Linked DNA regions of Homo sapiens. The protein of the gene in region 3 purifies or fractionates together with the protein of the main gene of each other region. This does not show direct contact. Each region holds a gene or a part of one and is shown on either strand. Other genes may lie near its edges.

Evidence for each region. The genes of interacting proteins can lie anywhere in the genome.
Region 1: the proteins of DTL (region 3) and CCT3 purify together in Homo sapiens (co-immunoprecipitation; 3 studies listed by BioGRID and IntAct, with this or other methods). This does not show direct contact.
Region 2: the proteins of DTL (region 3) and COPS4 purify together in Homo sapiens (affinity purification with mass spectrometry; 3 studies listed by BioGRID). This does not show direct contact.
Region 4: the proteins of DTL (region 3) and PFDN2 purify together in Homo sapiens (affinity purification with mass spectrometry; 2 studies listed by BioGRID and IntAct, with this or other methods). This does not show direct contact.

Annotation. Positions count from the first base shown.
Region 1 is NC_000001.11:156,324,793-156,328,292, forward strand, and holds part of CCT3 (T-complex protein 1 subunit gamma), read right to left. Parts: intron 298-3,500; coding exon 180-297; intron 1-179. UniProt on the Homo sapiens protein: Component of the chaperonin-containing T-complex (TRiC), a molecular chaperone complex that assists the folding of actin, tubulin and other proteins upon ATP hydrolysis.
Region 2 is NC_000004.12:83,052,183-83,055,682, forward strand, and holds part of COPS4 (COP9 signalosome complex subunit 4), read left to right. Parts: intron 1-3,500. UniProt on the Homo sapiens protein: Component of the COP9 signalosome complex (CSN), a complex involved in various cellular and developmental processes.
Region 3 is NC_000001.11:212,101,630-212,105,678, reverse strand, and holds the end of DTL (denticleless protein homolog), read right to left. Parts: intron 2,838-4,049; coding exon 2,739-2,837; 3' UTR 666-2,738; downstream 1-665. UniProt on the Homo sapiens protein: Substrate-specific adapter of a DCX (DDB1-CUL4-X-box) E3 ubiquitin-protein ligase complex required for cell cycle control, DNA damage response and translesion DNA synthesis.
Region 4 is NC_000001.11:161,101,038-161,104,537, forward strand, and holds part of PFDN2 (prefoldin subunit 2), read right to left. Parts: intron 1,339-3,500; coding exon 1,250-1,338; intron 1,135-1,249; coding exon 1,011-1,134; intron 1-1,010. UniProt on the Homo sapiens protein: Binds specifically to cytosolic chaperonin (c-CPN) and transfers target proteins to it. Binds to nascent polypeptide chain and promotes folding in an environment in which there are many competing pathways for nonnative proteins.

The DNA of each region.
Region 1 (3,500 bases), about 56 Mb from region 3:
AATTTTTTGTATTTTTAGTACAGACGAGGTTTCACCATGTTGGCCAGGATGGTTTCCATCTCCTGACCTCAAGATCCACCCGCCTAGGCCTCCCAAAGTGCTGGGATGACAGCCATGAGCCACCACGTCTAGCCAGGCCTCTCATATTTGATACTACCTATTTCTTGCCCCCAAGATACCTTATTTTCTTTAGGGTGCTGATCATATCATCCAATGCCTTGCGGTAAGCACTGATCACCACTGTTGGGTGCATCTGCTGCTCCAGGAAGTGCTCAGCTACAGACAGCATTTCCCCTGCTGAAAAAGATACAAGCACCATAGTAATATTTAAAGCATCTGGATATCAAGGCAAGTAACTTAATTATTCTTCCAAAAAATACTCTCCTAAATCAGACTCTCCCAAAAGGTATGACATTTGGCCATTCATACTATTCCAAATTCTACACATTGTATAAGACGGCAATTTATACAGAAAACATCCTTGTTGCCCAGGCTAGGCATGGTGGCTCATACCTGTAATCCCAGAAATTCAAGATCAGCCTGGGCAACACAGTGAGACCCTGTCTTTACAAAAAAATTTAAAATTTAGCTTAGTGTGGTGGTATGAGCCTGCAGTCCCAGCTACTCAGGAGGCTGAGGTTAAGAGGATCACTTGAGCCCAGGAGGTTGAGGGTGCAATGAGCCATGACCGCACCATTGCACTCCAATCTGGGTGACAGAGTGAGACCCTATCTCAAAAAATAAAATGATGAAAGACTGATTCTAGGGCTTACTTATTCTTTTGATTTTTTTTTTTTTTTTTTGAGAAGCAGTCTCGCTGTGTCGCCCAGGCTGGAGTGCGGTGGCGCAATCTCTGCTCACTGCAACCTCCGCCTCCCAGATTCAAGCGATTTTCCCACCTCGGCCTCCCAAGTAGCTGGGATTACATGCATGCATCACCACACCCAGCTAACTTTTGTACTTTATTAGTAGAGACGGGTTTTACTATGTTGGTTGGCCAGGCTGGTCTCGAACTCGTGACCTCAGGTGATCTGTCCACCTCGGCCACCCAAAGTGCTGGGATTACAGGCGTAAGCTACCACGCCTGGCCTTCTCTTGATCTTTCTAAAAAAAAATTTCCCTGAAGGCTCTAAAATAAAGAAAAATGCACAAAAGAAAAACTGACTTGTTTATTAGTACCTTTATACCTTAGGATGTAGTCAAACTGCTTGAACTAAAAACAAAACACACAAAACCCTACCTCTGAAAGAATATTCAGGGCTGGATGCGGTAGCTCACACCTGTAATCCCAGCACTTTGGGAGGCTAGGGTGAGCAGATCACCTGAGCTCTGGAATTTTTAGACCAGCCTGAGAAACATAGCAAAACCCTGTCTCTACGAAAAAATTCAAAAATTAGCCAGGTATGGTGGCATGTGCCTGTAGCTACTTGGGAACCTGGGCTGGGAGGACTCATTGAGCCCAGAAGGTCAAGGCTGCAGTGAGCCGTGATCACACTATTGCACTCCAGCCTGGGCAATAGAGCAAGATTCTGTTTCAAAAAAATAAAAAATTAAAATTAGAAAATGTGCACAATTAAGGCTGGGTGTGGTGGCTCACATCTGTAATCCTAGCACTTTGGGAGGCCAAGGCAGATGGATTACCTGAGGTCAGGAGTTCATGACCAGCCTGGCCAACATGGTGAAACCATCTCTACTAAAAATACAAAAATTAGCCAGGCATGATGGCACATGCCTGTATTCCTAGCTACTCGGGAGGCTGAGGCAGGAGAATCGCTTGAACCAGGGAGGCGGAGGTTGTGGTGAGCCAAGATCGTGCCATTGCACTCCAGCCTAAGCCACAGAGTGAGACTCCATCTCAAAAAAAAAAAAAAAAAGAAAAAGAAAAAAAAAAGAAAATGTACACAATTTACCCTCTGGATAAGGGATTATTGGTAAAACATCTCCTTCTTTTAAAATTTGTCTTTACTTTCTGGCTGGGAATGGTGGCTCACACCTTGTAATCCCAGCACTTTGGGAAGCCGAGGCAGGCAAATCGCTTGAGACCAGGAGTTTTGAGACTAGCCTGGACAACATGGTGAAACTGTCTCTACCAAAAATACAAAAATTAGCCAGGTGTGTTGGTGGGTGTCTGTAATCCCAGCTAGTTGGGAGGCTGAGGCACAAGAATTGCTTGAACCTGAGAGGCAGAGGTTGCAGTGAGTGGAGACTGTGCCCAGGCACCCCAGCCTGGGTGATAGAGTGAGACTCTGTCTCAAAATAAATAAACAAATAAAATTTGTCTTTACTTTCTAATAGACACACACAAAATAACATATACATAGATGCAAACCCACACACAAAAAAGCTTGTTTCTAGAAAAAGTATAAAGAGAGTATTGTAAATATTCTTTTTGTCAAAAGCCTTTTGCACAAATTGCTTGTACTACCTGCTTACTGGCAGGTAAAATAAGCTTTTAAAAATGTACATAGCCTCTCGCCTCTCCCCTCTCCCCTCTCCCTCTCCACGGTCTCCCTCTCCCTCTCTTTCCACGGTCTCCCTCTGATGCCGAGCTGAAGCTGGACTGTACTACTGCCATCTCGGCTCACTGCAACCTCCCTGCCTGATTCTCCTGCCTCAGCCTGCCGAGTGCCTGCGATTGCAGGCGCGCGCCGCCACGCCTGACTGGTTTTCGTATTTTTTTGGTGGAGACGGGGTTTCGCTGTGTTGGCCGGGCTGGTCTCCAGCTCCTAACCGCGAGTGATCCGCCAGCCCCGGCCTCCCGAGGTGCCGGGATTGCAGACGGAGTCTCGTTCACTCAGTGCTCAATGGTGCCCAGGCTGGAGTGCAGTGGCGTGATCTCGGCTCGCTACAACCACCTCCCAGCCGCCTGCCTTGGCCTCCCAAAGAGCCGAGATTGCAGCCTCTGCCCGGCCGCCACCCCGTCTGGGAAGTGAGGAGCGTCTCTGCCTGGCCGCCCATCGTCTGGGATGTGAGGAGCCCCTCTGCCTGGCTGCCCAGTCTGGAAAGTGAGGAGCTTCTCTGCCCGGCCGCCATCCCATCTAGGAAGTGAGGAGCGTCTCTGCCCGGCCGCCCATCGTCTGGGATGTGGGGAGCACCTCTGCCCCACCGCCCCGTCTGGGATGTGAGGAGCGCCTCTGCCCAGCCGCGACCCCGTCTGGGAGGTGAGGAGACCCTCTGCCTGGCAACCGCCCTGTCTGAGAAGTGAGGAGCCCCTCCGTCCGGCAGCCACCCCGTCCGGGAGGGAGGTGGGGGTCCAGCCGCCCCATCTGGCAGGGAGGTGGGGGGGTCAGCCCCCCGCCCAGCCAGCCGCCCCGTCCGGGAGGTGAGGGGCGCCTCTGCCTGGCCACCCCTACTGGGAAGTGAGGAGCCCCTCTGCCCAGCCAGCCGCCCCGTCCGGGAGGGAGGTGGGGGGGGTCAGTCCCCCCGTCCGGGAGGGAGGTAGGGGGGTCAGCCCCCGGCCCGGCCAGCCGCCCCATCCGGGAGGTGAGGGGCGCTTCTGC
Region 2 (3,500 bases), on a different chromosome or scaffold from region 3:
AAAAGGTAGGAAGAAAAACAGGGTAGACGATGACAGCAGACGTTAGGCTAAGGGATTAGTTTTTCTTTTATGATCCAGTAGAAAGCAAAAATTTGATATAGGGGAATTGGGGAGAGGATTCTTGCAGGAGTAGACAAGAGAGGAAGGAATCTAGCAGAGGGATAGGCTTTAGATAGGAATATGGGTAGTTCATCTGTGTCAGAGATTCTCAGCCTCAGCACTACTGGCGTTTTCGGCTAGATACTTTGTTGTGGGGGCTGTCCTGTGTATTGCAGGAGGTTTTAGCAGCACCACTCCTCTGATTGCTGGATGCCAATAGTACTGCTGTTCCTAGTTGTGACAAGAAAAATGTCTGTAGACATATTAGTGATATAGTGGTGGAATTTGTGTAAGTACTCTTTCATTGCATTGCTCCAGTATTCTTTTTTTGTTGGCTTTTTGGTTTTGAGAGAGGGTCTGGCTCTGTCAACCAAGCTGTAGTGCAGTGGTGTGATCTCAGCTCACTTCAGTGTCCGTCTCCTAGCATCCCAAGTAGTTGGGACTACAGGTGCACACCACTACGCCTGGCTAATTTTTGTATTTTTAGTAGAAACGGGGTTTCACCATGTTGCCCAGGCTGGTCTCAAACTCCAGGGCTCAAGCAATCCACCTGCCTTGGCCTCCCAAAGTGCTGGGATTACAGGTGTGAGCCACCATGCCCAGCCTTGCTTCAATATTCTTAAGGAAGTTGAAATCAGAGACATCAGCTGGAACGGTGGATGGGGTTGCAGTGTGAGGTTGAGGAGAGACAATAATGTGAGAAGTAATCCCCTTAGGAGAGTGGGACAATGAATGGACTCAGCATGTAAACTTGGCAGCATTAAGGACTTGTTGAAGATCATAATGATTAAAATTAGATCAGTCATACTGGGCACAGTGGCTTCATGCTTGTAGTCCTGGCTACAAGCCTCAGTCCCAGCGGAGGTGGGAGGATCTTGTGAGCCCAGAAATTTGAGCCCAGACTGGGCAACACACTAAGACCCCATCTCTAAAAAAAATTTGATTTGGTGCTTTTTCCCATCACATTTCAGCTACATGAGTACGGGAAAGGAGTGAGCAAACAATTAGGTTTAACCACAGTTGCAATTTTTGCCTAACAAGTATGACAGCAAGAGAGGGACAAGGGAGATGAGTACCTATGCGGTTCAATGATGATAAGTTATTACAATGAGTGACCATAGGAGTTAGGCTAGGTAAAGAGGGAAGTGAGGCCTTTATGGAGAAAGGCAGTGACATGTAAGGGATAAGTGGTTTGGAGGGCACAGTGGGTTCAAGGATTGTTGGGTTTGAGATACTAGAGAAAATGAGGTAGAAAAACAATTTTAAAAAATTAAGATGGCAGGGCGTGGTAGCTCACGCCTGTAATCCCAGCACATTGGGAGGCTGAGGTGGGCAGATCACCTGAGGTCGGGAGCTTGAGATCAGCCTGGCCAACATGGTGAAACCTTGTTTCTACTAAAAATACAAAAATTAGCCGGTGTGGTCTCATGTGCCTGTAATCCCAGCTACTGGGGAGGCTGAAGCACAAGAATCATTTGAACCCGGGATGTGGAGGTTGCAGTGAGCCGAGATTGCACCACTGCACTCCAGCCTGGGTGACAGAGTAAGACTCTGTCTCAAAAAAAAAAAAAGATGGTTTATAACTCTTACTCAACCAATCTTACCTCTTGATGTATATGTTTTTTAAAATTTATAGTTCTTTATGAAACATTTCTCCTAAGTATATTGCACGAGAAGGATGAAAGGTATGAGACTATTGCTTATTGTATTGAAAACACTTCCTCTTCCAGTTGGCAAGTATAAAACGGTACCAACTGTGAAGGACTTAAAAATATCTTTGGCCAGGCGCGGTGGCTCACACCTGTAATCCCAGCACTTTGGGAGGCTGAGGCAGGCGGATCACAAGGTCAGGAGATCAAGACCATCCTGGCTAACATGGTGAAACCACGTCTCTACTAAAAATATAAAAAATTAGCCAGGTGTGGTGGCAGGCGCCTGTAGTCCCAGCTACTTGGGAGGCTGAGGCAGGAGAATGGTGTGAACCTGGGAGGCGGAGCTTGCAGTGAGCCAAGATCACACCACTGCACTCCAGCCAGGGTGACAGAGCGAGACTCCATCTCAAAAACAAAACAAAACAAAACAAAACAAAAAATAACTTCATCTGCTTTTCTACTCGTTTGCCAGGTGAACGGGGGATTCTTTTTTTGTTCTTCATTAATATTTGCAATAGTGAGGCAGACACTGCTTCAGACATCTTGCCTTTTTTGTGCATTATTTATGAAATTACTTGGCAATGATGCTCCTTGAAAAAGCGGCCAGTTTGTAAAAAAGCCTTCATATGTAGATGTTGAATTTTGCATTTCAAGGTCCCTTGATAATTTGGTAGTTTGAAAAAGCTGGGCTTTCTTGATTGCTTTGGTCTTATTCTTTACCTAGCATTTTTTCCCTAGCACAGGGCAATTGATTTATTTTCAGTGGTAGCTGAAACAAATATAAAATTAGATACTGTTTTTTGCAGTGGTCATAATTATCATTTTATAGTACTATAGTGTTATCCTCATCTGTGAGGAAACCAAAGAGATAAAAATGTCATTGGTTTTCTAAACGAGTTAAAGTGACTAAATGTAGACTTTGGATAAATGGGAACTTTTTCTTTCAAAAAATGATTCATTCTGATTATGAAAGTAATCGATATAATAGTTACACTTGGCAAAAAATTGGAAAATTCAACAGTATAGTGCTATGCATAGCAAGCAATGTAAATTTGAATTGTGAATGGAAAAAAGTACAGAATATTAATATATGCAAGGAATAAATTTGCATAAATTTCTCCTCCCATTCTCCTTTGCCCCCAAATCAATAAAGTATAGAATTATTTTCAAAGCTGGGGCCAAGTGAATTATAAACTCTGTGTTCTTGCCACATGGTGGCACCACTTTTGCAGGTAAATAGGATTAATTTTTCTGTTAGGATTAATCTTGTTTCATGTGAGTTTTGAGTTATGTGAGGTCTTTAGTTATGCACTCCTGGCATAAAATGTGACCACTGAGATGAAGAAGAAAATGAAAGCCACCTATAATCTGACTACCCACAGATAATTGCTATTAGTATTTTGATATATGTGTATAGAAATATATTTTAATAGTGTTTTACATACTGTTTTATCCAGTTTTTTCATTTAGGAAAAATACGTGGTGACTAGATTATAACTATACAGTATTCTACCTTTTTTTTTTTTTTGAGATGGAGTCTCACTCTGTTGCCCAGGCTGGAGTGCAGTGGCATGATCTCGGCTTACTGCAACCTCCACCTCCCGGGTTCAAGCTATTCTCCTGCCTCAGCCTCCCTAGTAGCTGGGACTGCAGGCATGTGCCTCTATGCCTGGCTAATTTTTTTATTTTAGTAGAGACAGGGTTTCACCATATTGGTCAGGCTGGCCTTGAACTCCTGACCTCGTGATC
Region 3 (4,049 bases):
GGAATTATGAAGCAGAAACCACTTGTGTTGAATTGCCATAGGGAGGAAATTAACTCAGTTTTTCTAGTACAATGTTTTCACTCAGTCTGTCTTCTGACACACATTTGTAAAATGTTGCCCACACTATCTTAGTTGTGGAATTTATTTTTCTCTGTTAGACTACTTGGCCTTTGCTTTAAGAGCAATGTAAAAGGAACTAGGGACTAGGAAAAGCAGAAAAACAGACTTAAGAGCAGTAGTGTGTTGGCTATGACAGGCTCTCAAAAAGCATTTGTTGAACCCACACACTACCTATGTTATGAACATGGCCATAGGCTAATTTCAAGATGGGAGTTAAAGCTGTTTTAAGCTGTTAGGGCTGGGGATGGGGATAATGGGCTGACCCTCAACACAAGAGTAGCTACACATGGTCTTGATCCAACATCAGTTAAATGTGCAGTCCAGATGAAGAGACATTTGAAGACACTAATCAGTCATCCTCACAAAATTTAATTAAGGGCCCGTGTTGAAACAGCCAAAAGCAAACTCTAATACGGGATCCTAGCAATAGTGCTTGGAATGTATTCAAATGGAAAAGTTTGTGCTGGAAATACTTGTTTAGAAAAAGAACTACATCACTCCACCCTGCTTTATCAAGTAATCCAAGCCATCTTAAATGCTCAAAGTCTGATCCAAGCAAGATGTTTTTTATTAAAAGCTCTTTCAGCTTGAAATAGATTATAACTTTGGGAATAAACATTTTAATGAACAAGTAGAAGGGATTCTTGACTACTATAGTTCTTTTTTGTAGACTGCTTCTAGGTAATGCAAAAAGCTCAGAAAAGGACATCAGATAAGGTAAAAGGCTTTATTATTCAGGATCAGCTCAAAGTCTGACATGGACACAGGCAGGGATAATTATCTCATTACAGTTGACCTTTGGCACCCATTTAAAAGTACTAGCTTTCCAAGTGAGACATGTTATACCCAGTAGACTCGGTATAATTTCTGACAGCCAAATGTATCCCAATTTCACTCAGTAGGGCTGCCAGGAGATGGGTAGGGATACAAACAAAATCATCTACTTTATCAATCTTTTTTTTTTCATGGATTTTTTTCCCCCATTGGCTTTCAAAGCAAGTGAGATAAACAGCGTTACTGGCAGATATTGGTCATAAATAACATCTTCCCAAAGCCCAACAGTCAAAAAACAAACACCAAATATAAGCAGATTAGGCAGATTTCCTAAATATTCAGTTAAGGCTATGGTGTGCTTGGTTTTGACCAGAGCAATTCTATGGCTTCCTTTTATTTTTCTCCCTGGATAAAACTATGCTTACTTGATCCATGCAATTTCAGTTGTTACAGCTTTAACTTATAAGATCAAAGGAATTAAAAAGTTGTCAGAATAGATTTTCAAATAATGACAAAAACTGACATAAAGTCTACACAGTCCTCAGGGATATGGATAAAACAAATGAAGTTTCATGACTGGAAGGGGGCTCCCTTCTAAGTAAATAGTACATAGAAAGTATGTAAAGCCTCTTTCCATGAGGTTACAAAGGTGAAAAATATAAAACAATGGTTCAAGATCACTGATACATAATTGTTGAATAAGGGGAGGGATGTTTAAGATATTTTGCACATTATTAACTTAGAGTCAGTCTATACACTCTCTGTATTAAATATCTAGAGAAAATTCTATTACTTTTTGGCTCAGGGCTATCTATACTAAAAGGCTATTGCTTTTTATGTACATGAAAAGAAACTCAAGATTTATGTTTCTGGTTCTGGATTTTCAGTTAAGAGCTATATTCTGTTACAAAAATATCAATAAGAAATCATCACTTTTTTCTTAAAATCTGATGACTTATTTTTTTTAAAACATTGCAGCCCCTAAAGAACTGATGACTGCACCTGAATTCAAACCCCAAATTGATTTCATAAAACATCTTCCTCTAGTAAATGGCAAAAATCATAACCTCCTGTAGAAAGTGATGTTGGGTTGGCTGACATAGCAGATTGCTTGGTGAAAACATGGGGACCTGAAATCTCATACGGGAGATATATTTGAGAGAAAAAAGACAAACACAGCTTTCTGTTGTTGTTCTCCTAGTTTCTCCGAAGAGTTGACATTTATCACTGCATTTAAAATAAAGATGACTTTAACTCAAGAGACTGCATTTTAACACTGAACTGATATAAATGTACTTATCTGAGCATCACATTTTTACACATACTTAAAAAAAACCCCACAAAAGCATAGTGAAAAGATTATGTATTTCAAATAAAATTATACATGTTGGAGGCAGAACAGAACCAGGGGTCTTCAGCAGAGGATTTCTCAGTCAGCCTTCACAGGCCTCATGCTGTGGCTGGCAGATACTTTCCACTGAGCATAGAAAGTTTCAGGATAACAAGAAACTTGTTTTTTGCCTCCATGAACTGGGATGTCATTATTATAGAGAAGATGAATAATTTAAAAAGTGAAGACTATTCATTCAAAATGCTAGAGTGACAAATTTACTTTATGAAATTTAAACACAGCATTCATCCTCGGGAAGCTGCATATACATTATGGTAGTAGAACCAGATTAGGTACATTTCAGCGTTGAAAAGATTTTGTCTAAAAATGAAAAGGCAGCTTTCTTAAAGACCAGAGTTATAGAGTCACTCTTGTATTTTTCATCTTGTTTTAGTGGACCAAAGCTCAGCTTGTTTTAGTGGACCAAAGCTCAGTAACTCACTCAGATTAGAATCTATAATTCTGTTGAGTGTTCAGGACCACAGAAGTCCTCCTGGGACTTTCTATGGAAGTATGTGCAGATTTTCCTCATGGAGCTGGGCGTGATGGTGACCTAGAAGAAGAAAGTTTAGATTTCAGAGATTTCCTTGAAGTTCAACTGTTACTAAGTTATTACTAAGGCATACCTTAAATTAGGCTGCCAGAAATTTCATTGTTTAGCCTGCTTTCAGCTCCAAATACTTTCAATGGCAATGTCTCTTTTGGCTGATTTGTACTGACTATAGTAAAAACTTAACAGATGATATGTAGGGAAAGAAGGCATAGACTTCTTATGTGAATAGAAAACATTTACTAGCTAAGTCTCCTAATAAGAAACAAATAAGTTACAATTACTATCCTTTTTGAAATAAATGAATAAATCAGCCCCCCCAATTTATAAACAAGATAGGTATTCAAATGGAAGATGTTACTCTCTTCTGAAGGTTGACATTATCATCATATAAAGGTAAAAAATTTTTAAGAAATGTTAGCTTCAAATAAATTACAAGACCAGCACACTGTTTCTACTTTTTAAAGATTTTAAGATTTATGTATCAGTGAAAATAGTTTTTCATTGAAACTACTTTTCTGCTAACACATAGCTGAGACCAGCTCCCTTGAAAAAAAAAATAGAAATTTTGGCTAGGGATAAAGAGCAGTCATAATTTTGAGAGAAGGAAAGATTCCTTATAACTGTCTTTTTTCTCCACTTTCTACAGCAAGGTCTTGATTGCAGTTTGTGTACTAAGTTGTCTTTAAAATCTATCAGTTTATTTTTCTAAAATTATGGGATAGGTCTTCATGAGAGCAGGTCGGGGTTATGAACACTTTTTAAACTAAAACTGGCCTAAGGTTGGTTATCTAGCTTCTGCCCTTTAAAATGGCAGATGATGCTGATCATGATTCTGGATTCTATTTCAATCATCCCGCCACCACAAGAGCTACTGTGAAGTACAGTGGAAACTTCCTTAACCCATCTCCCCTTCACATGCAAACAACAGAAGCTTTTTATTCTCTCTGACTGGTGCCCATAGCTCACCCAATGCACTCAGCTACTTCTGCCTCCACCACTGTAATGAATCTTGTTTTTCAAGGTTCACAAACCTATTTCTGCCATCAATCACTGATGACTGATATTATCTAATTTAAATATTAAGTCAGTCAATGAAATGAGTCCTAAAAAGATAAGTGACACTACACTGAATGTTAAAAAGAATAGATATAGGTGTCAAAAGTATTACTGTGGTGTGGCAAAATGATTATAAAAGATTGTGGAGAAGTCATA
Region 4 (3,500 bases), about 51 Mb from region 3:
TAGAATCACCTGGGCTGCTTATTTTTATTTTTTACAGAGACAAGTTCCTACTATGTTACCCAGGCTGGTCTCAAACTTCTGCCTCAAGCAGTCCTCCTGCCTCGGTCTCCCAAAGCGCTAGGAATACAGGCATGAGCTTATTTTTATTTTTTCATTTTTTATTTTTAATATTTTTTTTTTGAGTTGCAGCATCGCTGTGTCGCCCAGGCTGGAGTGCAGTGGTGCAATCTCAGCTCACTGCAAGCTCCGCCTCGCAGGTTCACGCCATTCTCCTGCCTTGCCCTCCCGAGTAGCTAGGACCACAGGCGCCCACCACAACGCCCAGCCAATTTTTCGTATTCTTAGTAGAGATGGGGTTTCACCATGCTAGCCAGGATGGTCTTGACCTCCTGACCTCGTGATCCGCCCGCCTCGGCCTCCCAAAGTGCTGGGATTACAGGTGTGAGTCACTGCAACCTGCCTAGCTTATTTTTAAAATGTCACTTCATGGCACTCCCAAAGGTTCTAATCCAGTGGGTCTGGGAAGCTGCATTTATAAATTAGTCCTTCAGGTGATTTTGATTCATGTATTCGTGAAACACACACTATGAGAAACATTACTCTAACCCCAATCCTCCCACCCCAATTCAGCCAAGTCACAGAGCCCACAGCAGTCAGCAATTCCTCTTGTCTAAGAGTTGCACTTAGCATAGCATAATGAGCATAGGCTATTTTATGCTGCCCTCCTTTTATCTGAGACAGGGTCTCACTCTGTCACCCAGGCTGGAGTGCAGTGAGGTGATCACAGCTCACTGAAGCCTCGACATTTTAGGCTCAGGTGAGTAGCTGGGACTACAGGCACATACCACCATACCCAGCTAATCTTTTGTATTTTTTGTAGTGATATGGTTTCACCATGTTGCCCAGGCTGGTCTCGAACTCCCGGACTCAAAGAGTCCACCTGCCTTGGCCTCCCAAAGTGCTGGGTTTACAGCCACTGTACCCGATCCTATTCAATGATTCTTGCTCACCTGCTCCTTGTTGTTCTCCAAAGCGGGCAGCACCTCTTTGACAGTTCGCTCCACCAGCACTCCTCCAACCATGCGGTAGCACTTACGAGTTTCATCTACCTCCTTCAGTGTATCGATCACTAGGCTGGGATAGGAGAACAAGGCAGGACCTGAGGATTCAGCCCCACTCTACTACAAATCCCCCTCACGGAGTAGCCCACACAACTGTCCTACTGTTTGCCTCTCCCTGACTTTCTCACCTGTGCTCATTCAACTCCATCTCCAACTCAGCTGCTTTGGATGCCAGGCCTCGCTGTTCCTGCCGAAGGCGGTTGAAGCCAGCAATCACCTAACAAGGTGAGAGAAGAGATGAAAGAGGGGATAGTGGAAATGGCAGAGGGTCCAGATAGCACATAGGGTGGCAGGCTTTACAAAGGTGCAGTAGTGGGCACCTACCTTGGAAAAGGAGTAGAACCACAAGTTTGCGATTTCTACCTAAAATTTTTCTGGAATTCCATTCACCAAACACGGAGGGCTTACTATTTTTGAGATATTTGAGGGCCCACTGAGGGATATCACAGAATAGATTTGGCCTCTGGCTTCTCCTGGCTCATAGTTTGGTGGGAAATAGGCATTTAATATAAGAATGGGGGCCAGGTGCGGTGGCTCACACCTGTAATCCCAGCACTTTGGGAGGCCAAGGCAGGCGGATCACAAGGTCAAGAAATTGAGACCATCCTGGCCAACATGGTGAAACTCTGTCGCTACTAAAAATAGAAAAATTAGTTGGGTATGGTGGTGTGCGCCTGTAGTCCCAGCTACTTGGGAGGCTGAGGCAGGAGAATCATTTGAACCCGGGAGGCAGAGGTTGCAGTGAGCCAAGATCGCACCACTGCACTCCAGCCTGGCGACAGAGCGAAACTCCGTCTCAAAAAAAAAAAAAAAAGAATGGGGTTGGAGAGCTACTGGAGTACCTACAGGGGAGCCTAGACTTGCAGTGAGGGCTGTCAGGAAGGGCTTTGTAATGAGTAACTTTTGTTTGGGTCTGCTCAGTATCCCATCCATTGGGGAACTGCCCCTCCTTAACTTGGTGTGGTTCTTTTGGGGCTACTAACCACATGACCCCTGACCCAGGGGCAGTGACCTATGGAATCTCTCTACAGGAATTGGAATTTTGCAGACAAATGGGTATAGAAGACAGCTGGAGTTAAGATTCCTATTGGTTCTGTAGAGATGACCTTCCATTCCTATTCCTAGATTCCCTAAAGCTGCCCCAGTTCTTGAACTTTGTTCAGTCTAGTTATTTAGCCTTCTTTTTCATTCTGTTCAATTCTGTGAAATACCCACTATTATTCAAAAATAGCCCTTTAAAAAAAAAAAGGGCCAGGCGTGGTGGCTCACGCCTGTAATCGCAGCACTTTGGGAGGCCGAGGTGGGCAGATCACCAGGTCAGGAGATCAAGATCATCCTGGCCAACATGGTGAAACCCCATCTCTACTAAAATACAAAAAAATTAGCCGGGCATGGTGGCATGTGCCTGTAGTCCCAGCTACTCAGCAGAGGCAGGGGAATTGCTTGAACCCAGGAGGCGGAGGTTGCAGTGAGCTGAGATCACGCTACCACACTACAGCCTGGCAACAGAGCAAGACTCCGTCTCAAAAAAAAAAAAAAAAAAAAAAAAAAAAAAAGAAAGTTGGTCAAAGTTGGTTTCTGTAGCCTATAAACCCTAACTGATACAGAATTGATACAGGCTTCCTGAGGGATAATGTAATGGTCTTAAATGAAACCTGAAAAATCAGAGTGTGGGGGGAAAAAATGAAAAATATGAGGCTCAGAGACAAAAGACCAGGTTTCAGGTTCTGCCTCTGCTACTTTATTGGCTCTATGGCCTGGCACAGACATTTAACCCTGTGGTTCTTAACCATGGCTATATGTTAGAATCACCTGAATCATTTTAAAAACATGAATACTGGACCCTCAGAACAACTACACAACTACTGGGGGTAAGGCTCAGGCCTCAGTATTTTTAAAAAGATCTCCCACATAATTCTAATGTGTAGTGTGAACTGAGAACCACTGGATTAACCCCTTTAAGCCTTAGTTTTCTTACCTGCAAAATGCAGATAATGATTCCTACTGCATAAGGTTGTTGTATCATGTGAACCAATGAGTGTGAAACATCTTTGTGAACAGTGAAGTACATTAATGCTATCATGGACTTCTCTCCAAGTCCAGAATTGCCCCTTTAGACTCTCCTGGTCATCTGACAACAGTGGACTCAATCCATTCAAACCATTACCAAATACGAGTGTATTTGCAAATATCATCTCCAGTCACACAGCCAGAAACTTTCCCCTAATAAAGATGATTAACCACTTCATCTTTACTAGGGCCCTATCTCTTTTTTTCTTTTTCTTTTTCTTTTTTTTTTTTTTTAAGAAAGGTCACACACTGTCACCCAGGCTGGAGTGCAGTGGCACAATCATAGCTCACTGCAGCCTCAATCTCCCT